Regions from separate parts of the Homo sapiens genome. Here region 2 is linked to region 1. The links come from fine-mapping of genetic effects on gene expression. A gene starts in region 1. The other region holds a variant in brackets. All regions are shown on one strand. Distances are from middle to middle. Region 1 holds the start of LHCGR (luteinizing hormone/choriogonadotropin receptor). Region 2 overlaps STON1-GTF2A1L (STON1-GTF2A1L readthrough).

Evidence for each region.
Region 2: its variant is fine-mapped to the expression of LHCGR in visceral fat (GTEx, PIP above 0.99). The same link has a PIP of 0.9 or more in subcutaneous fat.

What each region holds. Positions count from the first base shown.
Region 1 is chr2:48,753,061-48,758,440 of GRCh38, reverse strand. It overlaps LHCGR (luteinizing hormone/choriogonadotropin receptor), which reads left to right and starts at 2,717. Exons shown (of 11, transcript NM_000233.4): 1 at 2,717-2,930. The coding sequence starts at 2,770. The region is part of intron 10 of STON1-GTF2A1L (STON1-GTF2A1L readthrough); the gene reads right to left. RefSeq lists an enhancer at 2,383-3,159.
Region 2 is chr2:48,732,293-48,737,672 of GRCh38, reverse strand. The region is part of intron 10 of STON1-GTF2A1L (STON1-GTF2A1L readthrough); the gene reads right to left. All of the region lies in intron 1 of LHCGR (luteinizing hormone/choriogonadotropin receptor), which reads left to right. Among named protein-coding and RNA genes, the nearest start is that of LHCGR, 21 kb to the left of the region's middle. The variant C/A (reference allele first, on the strand shown) is at 2,521.

The DNA.
Region 1 (5,380 bases):
CTCCATTCTAAAACTTTGGAGAGTTTTAATTGCAATTTCTGAGTTACGGTGTCAGTATGTTTTTCTATCTCTAAAGTAGGATAAAATATTTGTGAATTCTGTGAACTTTATTTTGTCATTAAAATGTAATCAGCAATCTTTGTGGGTCATGTTGGTTTGAAGTTCTCTGACAAAGTAGCTATAAGCATAGTTAATGAAACAAAGTCCTTTGGATTTAAAAATACTCACTCATAATGAGTATTAATGAATAAGATAGGTAAATTCCATTGTAACAAACTTTTGTGATTATAACAAATGAATCAATATGATTTTATTATAATAGTTACATTGCAAGAACTGATGTGATAATTAAGATCCAACTGAAATTAATCTAGATAGTAAAATTTTATGAAAACTCATTACAGTTGTTAGCTTTCTTCCAAACGAACAACCTCAACTCCTCATAAACAGGATTTTATTTCCAATCCAAGACAAGTTATAAGAAGTCAATATATACAATCCAATTCCTCCCACTAGCAATTCTGTAGGAGCTGCTTAGAAAGTCCTTGCATCTTTAGAGCCAGAAGAGCCTTAGGGATAGTGAACTTCAACCCTTCTTCTTACAGATGAAGAGACTGAAGGGCAAATCTCATGATTGACAGCAGAAACAGAAGGAAAATCCTAGTGTTCTGATTGCCTAGTCCTCCTACTGGAGTACAGAATTAAATGATTCTTCTGGAATATCCATTGTTTTCAAAGATTCAGGGGTGGGTGGGAGCAAACTTTTTTTATATATAACAGGTACACTACAGGGTTAAAAAAAGAAAAAAGTCACATAAAACATGAGACTTGAAAGAAAAGCCATTCAGGCACCTTGAGTTATTCATTCTTTCTCTCCTTCCATTCAAGATACATGGTGAAAACTTTTAAAAATCCCAGTGCCTACCCCAACTTCCCTACCAAAATCTGACAAAACTAAAAGAGAACAGAGAACATGACACCCAAAGTCGTCATGTATAATTACTTTTTACATATCCAGATAGATCCAGCGTGGTTGAGAATAAAGCAAGTGAGGGTATCAAGCTCTTCTCAGATAGTTTACTGAGCATCTACTACAAATCTGGGCCTCACTTATTCACTCTATTATTCAACAGACACATATGGAACACCTACTAGGAGCTAGAAGCTATGACATGCTCTGTTGATATTGAGATGAATAGAGAGGGGAAAGCAAAATTAAACCCACAATTACAGTGTGTTAGATTACCTGCTGTAGAACCAGGTGTTATGGCCACAACTACTCAACTAGGATGACTCAGAGAAGAATCAAAGTGGAAATGACATTGGGCTGAGTCTTGAAGGACAACTGGGAGTTTATCTAATGGAATAATGGAAAAAGAAGAGAAAATAGTGGGGACAGCCCATGCAGAGGTATTAAAGGGTGAGGAGTCATCTATAAGCAGTTGAAGAGAGGATCCAGAGAAGACAATATTATAGACATGAGCATTGTTTTTGTGCCATCTAGCACAATGTGGCCAAAGCCAAACAAGTTTTTAAAATAATAATAATCTACCCTCCTTGAGCAACAGACTGTAGAATGGTGAATGAAGGAGCCCATCCTTGAGAACTGGCTTCAGAGTGAAAGAAATCTATTCTTATATTTCCTCTCTTCAAAGCCTTAAATGCCTTCCCAGCTTTCAAAGTCCACCTCTTCCAGCAAAACTGCTAGGATTTCCAGAATCCAAACAGAATCCTTGGAAGGAAGAAATGATCAAATCAAAGAGGGGATATTATGGATCCCCATGATTACCGTAAAATTTTGTCTCCTAAGTTCTTTGGTATGTAGATCATAGCAGCTTTTTGCATTGGTGAGAGGTGGTAGGTGATAGACATGAGTTCCAGGTTTCACTACTTTAAAACCGTGTGACTTCAGGGAAGCCACATACCTCTTGGGACATTTTTCTCATCGCAAACACCCTGCTAGTTCAATGTGGAGCTTAAACATGATGTGAGGCAGAGCACCTGTTACAAGGTCTAGCCTATCCTGGGCCTTCTATGGGGCAGCTGCTACCAGTATTAGGCAGTTTCATTCATTCATTCAACAAATCTTTACTGAGGACTTACCATGTAGAAGCCAGAAGGAATACAAAAATAAATCTGAATTGGATTTTGCTCTCAAGGACCTCCCAATCTATAGAAGAGATACAGGACCAAGCCAAATAGCTATACCATAAATAAGAAAGCATTTACCACCAAGAGAAATTACTGGGGTAGTTGGGAGGATGGGCAAAGATTACTTGTAGAGTGGAGGGATTTGGTGAAAGAGAAGGGGAAAGGATTAGGGGTTGAGGATAAAAGAGAGGAAAAATGTCTGAGCCAGGCACTCTTACGCCTTCTGATGTGGGTATAGCGAGTATCCATCGGACCCTTTCACAAATGAAATAAAAGGGGTTCCGGGAAGCGTCACAACTCACTCAATTCAGAACTCCCCACCTCTAATCCAAAACATTTGCCATTAAATCTCTTTACCTCCTATAGCTAGGGCCATTTGCAGATGGTAGGGGACAAGACAGGGGAAAGTAGCAGGAAGGAGGTTATTGGGTCACTGGGCACTGTCGCAGGTCAAGGCAGAGCAGACTCAGCGGGGTGCGCGGTAAGAGGGGGAGGGCAGGGGCGGGCCGGCAGGGAAGGGTGTGTGGAAGGGCAGCCAAGGGGCGGGGAGAGGGGTGCGGGCCGCACTCAGAGGCCGTCCAAGACACTGGCAAGCCGCAGAAGCCCAGTTCGCCGGCCATGAAGCAGCGGTTCTCGGCGCTGCAGCTGCTGAAGCTGCTGCTGCTGCTGCAGCCGCCGCTGCCACGAGCGCTGCGCGAGGCGCTCTGCCCTGAGCCCTGCAACTGCGTGCCCGACGGCGCCCTGCGCTGCCCCGGCCCCACGGCCGGTCTCACTCGACTGTGAGTACACAGCGCTCCCGTCGCGGCGCCCTTGATGCAGGACCCTCCATCGCTCTATGCCACCTTCCCTCCCTACTCCTTTGGCCCCCTTTCCCTGGAAGCTTGGAGAAAAACGCTTTGCCCTATCAAATTTCCCCCACGTTTTAGGGTGATGAGAACCCAAAACTTGGTGGTTGTTTTTACCACCCCATGCCTCTGAGAGCCCCAGCCCCATTCTTTACCCCTGGTTGGGGCTGTGGCCGGGGGAGTAGAACTATTCAGGAACCTCAGGGGAAGGCCTGCTCTCTGCCGCTGCTTGAAGGGAATATGGGTGTGACGCTCCTCAACTCCTCTGGCAGGGGTCTCTGCCAGAGAAGTCTTACAGGCCTTTGAGCCTTGGGCCAGCCACGTCAGGGAAGGTGAATGTGAGCTCTGGCACCCTGTGGTCCTCTAGGAATGGAGTGCTCAGGCCCTATGGCCAAGGGTGACCTAATCTGTCAACTGACTGCTGGCAGTCACACGGGCATCTTAGTGAGCACACAAGCCGCTGCTCCACCGTGCCCAGATGTGCTTGAACTTCAGTCTCATGGTCTAATGGACCAAAGGCCCTGTGCCCTGCCGCTGGCACCCGCGCACCACCTCCACACTCACAGGCCTGATTGAGGGATTGTATACATCAGCAACCTGGGGGAGGGCGTTGTTTCTGGAGTAATGGGGTAAAGAGGAGAAGGGGAGCCTTTAGTACTAGACTATCAGGGTGTCATCAGGTCTCCTTTCTCCTATTTAGAAAAAAAAGTACCACATATTTTATAATACTATTTACATGAAATGTCCAGATAAACTGAAAGTAGATTAGTAGTTACCAGGGCTGGGGAAGCGGATGGGAGGGACAGTAGGTGACTACTAATCAGTGGGTATGGGCTTGGGGCGGGGGGGTGGTGAAATTTTTGTAAAATTAGATTGTAGAGACAGTTGCGTGTGAACATATTAAAAACAATTGCATTGTCCACTTTAAATTCTATAGTGTAGGATTTACATCTCAATACAGCTGTGAAAAGAGAAAAGGAAAGAAAAGAAAGGGAAAAAAAGACAAAAGACAAGAGTATCTAAAAGGCTGGTAGAGGTCTTGATCATGTCCTAACAATTAGAGATGATGGAATTCTGTGCTGGGGAAGGAAGGAGACCACCCCCTCTGCCATTTCCTTTGAGCCCCCAACAGTCTGTCACGGGCTGTTTCATAGAGGAGACTCACCCTCCCTGCCAGGCCAGGCTTCTTCATGTGGAAAAGTTAAAGGCCTTCTGGGAATAATTGTGGTTGAGAGATACAGTTAAAGGGTTGAGGGGTTTATATTAATTAGTTTCCATTAATTATCTTGTCAGGTCCATTCCCTGAAGGAATGGACCATGCTGATAGAATTTGTTTCAATCAATCCACAAATCCATGCAACAGGCCTTCCAAGTTCCAGCCCTGGTCCGTCCCTGACAAGCATGCCATGTTGCTCTTAAGAATGACTGTACTACTAACAGACTTTCTCACTTGCCTGCTACTTATCATACAGATTAGAAGAAACTGAGATCCAAGGAGAAGGAATAACTTGCTCAAGGTCTCACAGCTATTGAATAGCAATTCAGGATTTTATCTATTAATTATCTTTTTAAATTTGCTCATCTTTGTAAGAAAAACTACTGCTTTCTTAATAAAACACACACACACACACACACACACTCAGTTTCTCCAAAATTAGTACTGAGCAAAGAACTCCCACTGGGGGCATGAATGGGTGGGCCAAGTCCCAGTTCCTTTTCAATTCAGCTTTTCAGTAAGATCTCTCAAGGGCTCCTGCTGCCACGTGCTGTTCTCAGGAGGGGACCCCCTTCCCTGGAAAAGGCTGAAGTAAATTTTTTTTAAAAATCCCACTTTCTCCTGCTGCCTTTCAGCAGGGTTTCAAGAATCCTAGAACCCCTCAAAAATATCTGATAGGGCTGACTAGGTTTGGGGGTAGAGACCCTGAGCATCCACCACCAGGAACATCCTCTGCCAGTCATTTAGCCTCCTTAGCCAAGCGTGGTGACCCTCACAAGGTTTCATTTCCTGAGCACCAGATGGTTGAGAGATGCCCTCATCTTTCAAGAGATGCCCTTGTCACTCTGTGGAGGTTGAGCCTATGCAGGCCAAAACAGGGTAACTTTTGGCACAACATAGTGACACCAACATCCATATGACAAGAGAGGTGCATGTTAAGCAAAGGGAGGGTTGTTACTTCAAGGCAATATTTCTCAAAGTATGGTCTTAGCTCAGCAGTATGAACATCACCTGGGAAATGTTAGACTGCATATTCTCAGGCCTCAGCCCCAACCTACTGAATCAGAAACTCCAGGGGTGGGGTCCAGCAGGCTACAGATTAACAAGCTCCTCAGGTGATTCTGATGCATACTAAAGTTTGAGAACCAAGGCACAGCTCTCCAGGGAG
Region 2 (5,380 bases), 21 kb after region 1:
AGCCTCAGCTCCCTCTAGGTAAATGCTGAAGACAATAGGCCAATAAGTGAAGACATTCCCTGTAATGAAGCCACCAAATAGTCCGATGCCTTTGACAGCTCAAAGATTTAAAATCATTTCAAAAGAGGAAAGCTATTTTTATTTTATTCTAAGATGAAAGCAAGTTTATTATCATTGTGAGCAGCTTTGAAAAGAACACAGAACTTCTTAAGACACTGTTAAGTGTAGAACAAGATCTTAATAAATACAAAAACACCAAATTCTTTTGAATTTAAATAATTAAATAAACCTCTTCCCATTTCAACAAGTTCATTAGGCAAAAAAGCTTTAACTCTCTGATTTCTCTCTTTTTTCCCTTCATCTGATTTTGTAGTGTTTTAGAATTCAGGATATAGCTCTAGCAATAAACTCATTATCTGTGGAAAATGAATGGATGTTTGTAGCTTTCTTAAATCAATAATATAGTTGGCATTTTTAACAACAATTAGAAGGTAGTGAATAAAAACACTTCACTTCTGCCATGTGTTGGGCAGAAGGAAAAGTAAAAGCTCTGGCAAGTGACCAAAGAGCCTATACAGTCTTTGGAGACTCCAGATTGGTGCTGCATTTCTTCCCTGGCTCTTCTCTCCCTCTGCACCTCCTCAGCCTGAGGGCATCAGAAGGCTTCCCTGCCCTGGGAAACATCTTGTATTCAAGCTCTGAAAAACCAAGGGGAGGTGAGAAACCTACAGTTATAATTTGCTTTATGCAATACCTGTCCTTAAAAAGAGAGAGTGTGTCAATTGAACTCTATTTTCCATTCACCCAGGGAGTTTGCTATTTAAAGCAACCCTGCAGTAAATCCATCTATAGAACAAAGAAATATTTGATAGTGCATATGTCTCCCAATTGATAGGTTTTTATAAGCAAGGATTTCCAGATTTTTTTAAAATTTTTAATATATATAACATACAAAACAAATCTTCTATTTTCTTAAAGGGGGACACTAGAGCCCACCTGACTGAAGCTCTCCAGGTAACATTACTTTGAGGATTAGTTAACAAAAATTAAACTGGACAAATTGGCTCCTTCCAAGGCCATCTGTGTCATTAAACTCAAAAGAAAAAAGAAGAGGGGCCCAAGCCCCAATCCTGGGTACCCAGGAGACATTAGAAACCACCAGGGAGGACATGATAAGGTGGCGTTATCTTCTTTAAGGTAATTAGATTTATCTGGATGCTGTAAATTTTCCTGTCACTGGACTCTGACACAGCTGCACTGAGTGCTTGGCAATTGGATTTGGCTGGGAAGGGGATCAAGTCAGGGCCCAGGTAAGAATTGATAGGAAGAAGGTCTAAAGATAGGATGGTCCTTCTGAGTAGTCCCACCCGGAGGCAAGGGGGCTGGGCCTTTATTCTATACATTGTCCAGTCACTGGATGAGGGCTGCCCAAAAGAGAAGACATAATCCTGGGTGAGGTAGCAATCTTGGTCTGTGTATTGGTCCATTCTCACACTGCTATAAAGAAATACCCAAGACTGGGTAATTTACAAAGAAAAGAGGTTTAGTTGGCTCACAGTTCTGCAGGCTGTACAGGAAGCATGGCTAGGGAGGCCTCAGGAAACTTACAATCATGGCAGAAGGCAAAAGGGAAGCAAGCACATTTTCATGTAGCCAGAGCAGGAGGAAGAGAGAGAGGAGAGGTGCTACACACTTTTAAACAACCAGATCTCATGATAACTCACTCACTCTCATAAGAGCAGCAGCAAAGGGGAAATCTGCCCCCTTGATCCAATCACCTCCAACCAAGCCCCACCTCCAACACTGGGAATTACAATTTGACACGAGATTTGGGTGGACACAGACCCAAACCACATCAGTCTATAAGCATAATTCTAGGAGAGCAACTCAGCTGAGAGCTTCAGCCACCCACTCTTTCCTAGCAGTTGGCGAAATTGGTGCGTCAGTACTAAAGAGTGACTTGGGTAGCCCACCACAGTATCCACTACAGAAAGTAACCCAACTCCACTGGGTAGTCCTAACACAGGGTCACCGTCTGTGCCAAGGGGCCCAGTTTGAAAGTCAGAACTAAGCAGTAAGAGATACTAGCTTGACCCTAACCAGACAGCAACCAGGAACTGTTCTAGGGCAGCAGTGTTCCCTAAGGGGTAGAGATACAGGGATCAGGATCTGGTGATTGAGAAAAAGAGAAGGCAGGAACTAAGAGAAGCCCTACTCCTAGATGGATTCTGGGGAGACCAAGCAAGCTACAGAATAAGAAATCGAGACAAAAACAAACACCAGCATAGCATGTGGGAAGGCACTGCAGGTGCACTCCTGCCCCCAAATATTAATATTATTGGGTCCAGTTTAGACGATGCACAAGCCTCGCCAGAGTCATGACCAATCACAAGATCCCAGTACTAGGATGAATGACTTAATTCCAGCCCTAAGGAGGACAGACTGTTTCGATTTCAACTTTAACACACAACTAGAAGGGTTGGGGACCTGCAGATGAGATTAATGAGTAGATGGAAGTTC[C/A]AAGCTGATGAAGCTAACGCAGACTTTGTAATCCAATTGAAGCATTTGTTTCAACATCTGTGGCAAAGGCACTTGGGCAAGGTGCCACCTGCGTTGCCTCATCAATTTATTTAAAAACAAAAGTTCAAAACTGCAAAAAAGACTGTGAAAATATAATAAATTTAAGTAGCTGCATAGTTCTACAGCCATATTTTTCCACAGCCGTCTCACCTTTCAAGAGAGAATCTCCACCCTGCAAGTTCAACCTCATATTTTCCCAGTAACCCTAATTCTTTACCACCCATCTGAGGTGCATAGTTGTGGTGTATCACCCTCTTTTGCTGAGACAGAAAGGGCTCTGTCCTTCCTTTATTTTCTTTGCTTTATGCATAGCTTTCATTCCTTTTTTGACCCTGGACAGCAGAGCTGCTGAACTGTCCTTGCCTTAGGCATTTTTGCCCTCAGTTCTCCTTGGCTTCTGCTCTATATCAAATGATACCGACTAGACCTTTCCACAATAGTTCACAAAACTATTGGAATACAAGTATGCCTAACTCCAAAAAAATATGAAGGAAAGGAAAGGAAGGAGGGAAGAAGGGAGAGAGGAGGAAGGAGGAGGAAGAAAGGTAAGCAAGCAGGCTGCCAATACATCAAAATAAACCTTTTTTATTTTCCATTTGTCTCTCTAGTACAGAGGGTTAAGTTGGTCATATTTCTTCATTCAAGTAACATTATCACTAGTCCATTCAAAGTCCCTCTCTGTTTTTAGTTATTTATTTTATCTCCTTCTCCCACTTCTGTTCCTCTCAACTCACCTTAGATAACAATCCTAGTGTATGTTCATGTGCAGGAGGAGGTTAATGTCTAGTGTTTCGTTTACATATATTTTAATTCTGCAAACAGTATATTATATCTCCGTAATTTCTTGTTTCTCTCAGTTCCATGATTTGAAGATCCACCCATGCTACTCTGTGTGCCTTTAGACTCTCACTTCTACAGGCTCTCCTATTCAGTTAGGTGTGTACGGTCCAAATTTTACATACTCCCTCACCTAGTAATGGACACCCAGGTTGCCTCCAAGCCCCTGATGCCACAATGCTGTGAAGAAAACGTTTGTACAAGATTCCTTTAAGTATCAATTTGAGAATTTTTCTCAATGTATACAGGAGTGGAATTGCAGGGTTATTAAGATCATTGTTCACATTGCTAAAAGTTTCTGGCATCATGGAAAGAATCATAGATGCATCCAATAGAGAGTGGGACACCTTCAAAGGGAGTACATTCAAACAGTTATCAACAAATCATAAACTTTATTAATAAATTCTGGAGACAGATACTTGAATGCTTAGGAACTGCTACCCATCAAAGACGAATCAGAAATGAAGATGTGACATTTCTGAAAAAAAAAACATATAAGTCTGTAGGGAAAATGGTTTTCGATTCACAGGACCACATTCTCTGTGTTGCCTCATGGGAACACATCTGTTGTGAAAAGCACAGTGCACCTGCCTAACCCCACCTCTCTCCCCATTCCCTGGCCCCCAGGACTCTTTCTTGACCCAGCCATATCCACAAAGTCACCTGCTGTTCACTTGGTGTCTCTTTTATAGGGGAGGCTCTAGTTTCACTCTCCCCACTGCTGCCTTTCCTGCTCTGCAGCATCAACATCAACGCTGCAAAATTTCAGCTTGCACCAGGGCTGCTTCTGTAGCCACTGGAGACTGCCATTGCATGATCTACAGCTTCTTGCACTTCTGTCCGACCTTTGCTCCTCATCCCTCCTCCCTACATCAATCAAAAGCTCAGGCAACCTCCCTGATCAAATCTGAACCAAACTGCTCCTCTGGGAGTCACACCATGCTCCCATTTGGAGGAGGAGGCTGCCTGCTGAGAGACTTCAGCTTCTGGGCTCCATTTGCATGAATAAACAGCTCTGAAGTGTTCTGCTGAAGCTTTTATGTAAACACTCTCCAAAATATGTTCTGCACTGCATTATCCCCAGCAATAAAGATTCTGGAATCAGAATTTGGCTGTCAGTTTTATTGATGCTGCAAGGGGTACAGTGGAATACAGCTTTCTCTTCTGTAAATTTATTGGTTTGGCAGTGCAGAGAGCAATAAAACTGTGTTTTTAATCAGGAAGCCAAGCGAACATGATTCCAGAAGAAATATAGGAAGCAAATATGCCATCACAAGAAGATTTCTTCCCACACTGTCCCTGTTCTTCTCGGATCCTTTGTTAAATGAGTTTAGGTGTTAAACGATGTCCTTCTTGGGAATGCCTTCGGGAATAGAATCAGAGACCAAAGTTGGATTACTTTCTCTAGGTTATATCATTTCTAAGAGATTATTGAGTGAAAATATTTTTCTGAAATGAAATTTCCTCCCTATTAGCACCTAGGGAGGAACGGCTGGTAAACCGCTTTGCAGAAGAAATAGAGCGAATGTGACATGCTTCCTCTCAGGAGAAGCAAGGTTGCAATGTCTGTCCCTCCACCTTGCTCACCAAGACATGGGATTAAGAGTGACATGCTTTGGCCAGTATTGCACAGGGAAAGGATGTCTGGAGTCATTCTGCCTCGTTGTAACCTTGTTCAGGTTACTTAGTCTCTTTGTGACCCAATTTCTTCTGCTATGTAAGAGAAATTCCCACCTCACACCATTGTTGAGTGAGTAAAAGAAGGTCACAAATGGGTGTGTATAACTCACATAGTAGCTTACAACTGTAGCAAGTCCCTTCTGGGACTGTAAGAAATCTTACTTTCATCTGCCCATCATGGAGGTGTTCTTTCCTAGAAGCTTAAAGCAGTCTCTGCTGCATAGACATGTTAAAAACAAGACAGCATCTTTCACCTTTGTTCTCATATTCCTGATACTCACAT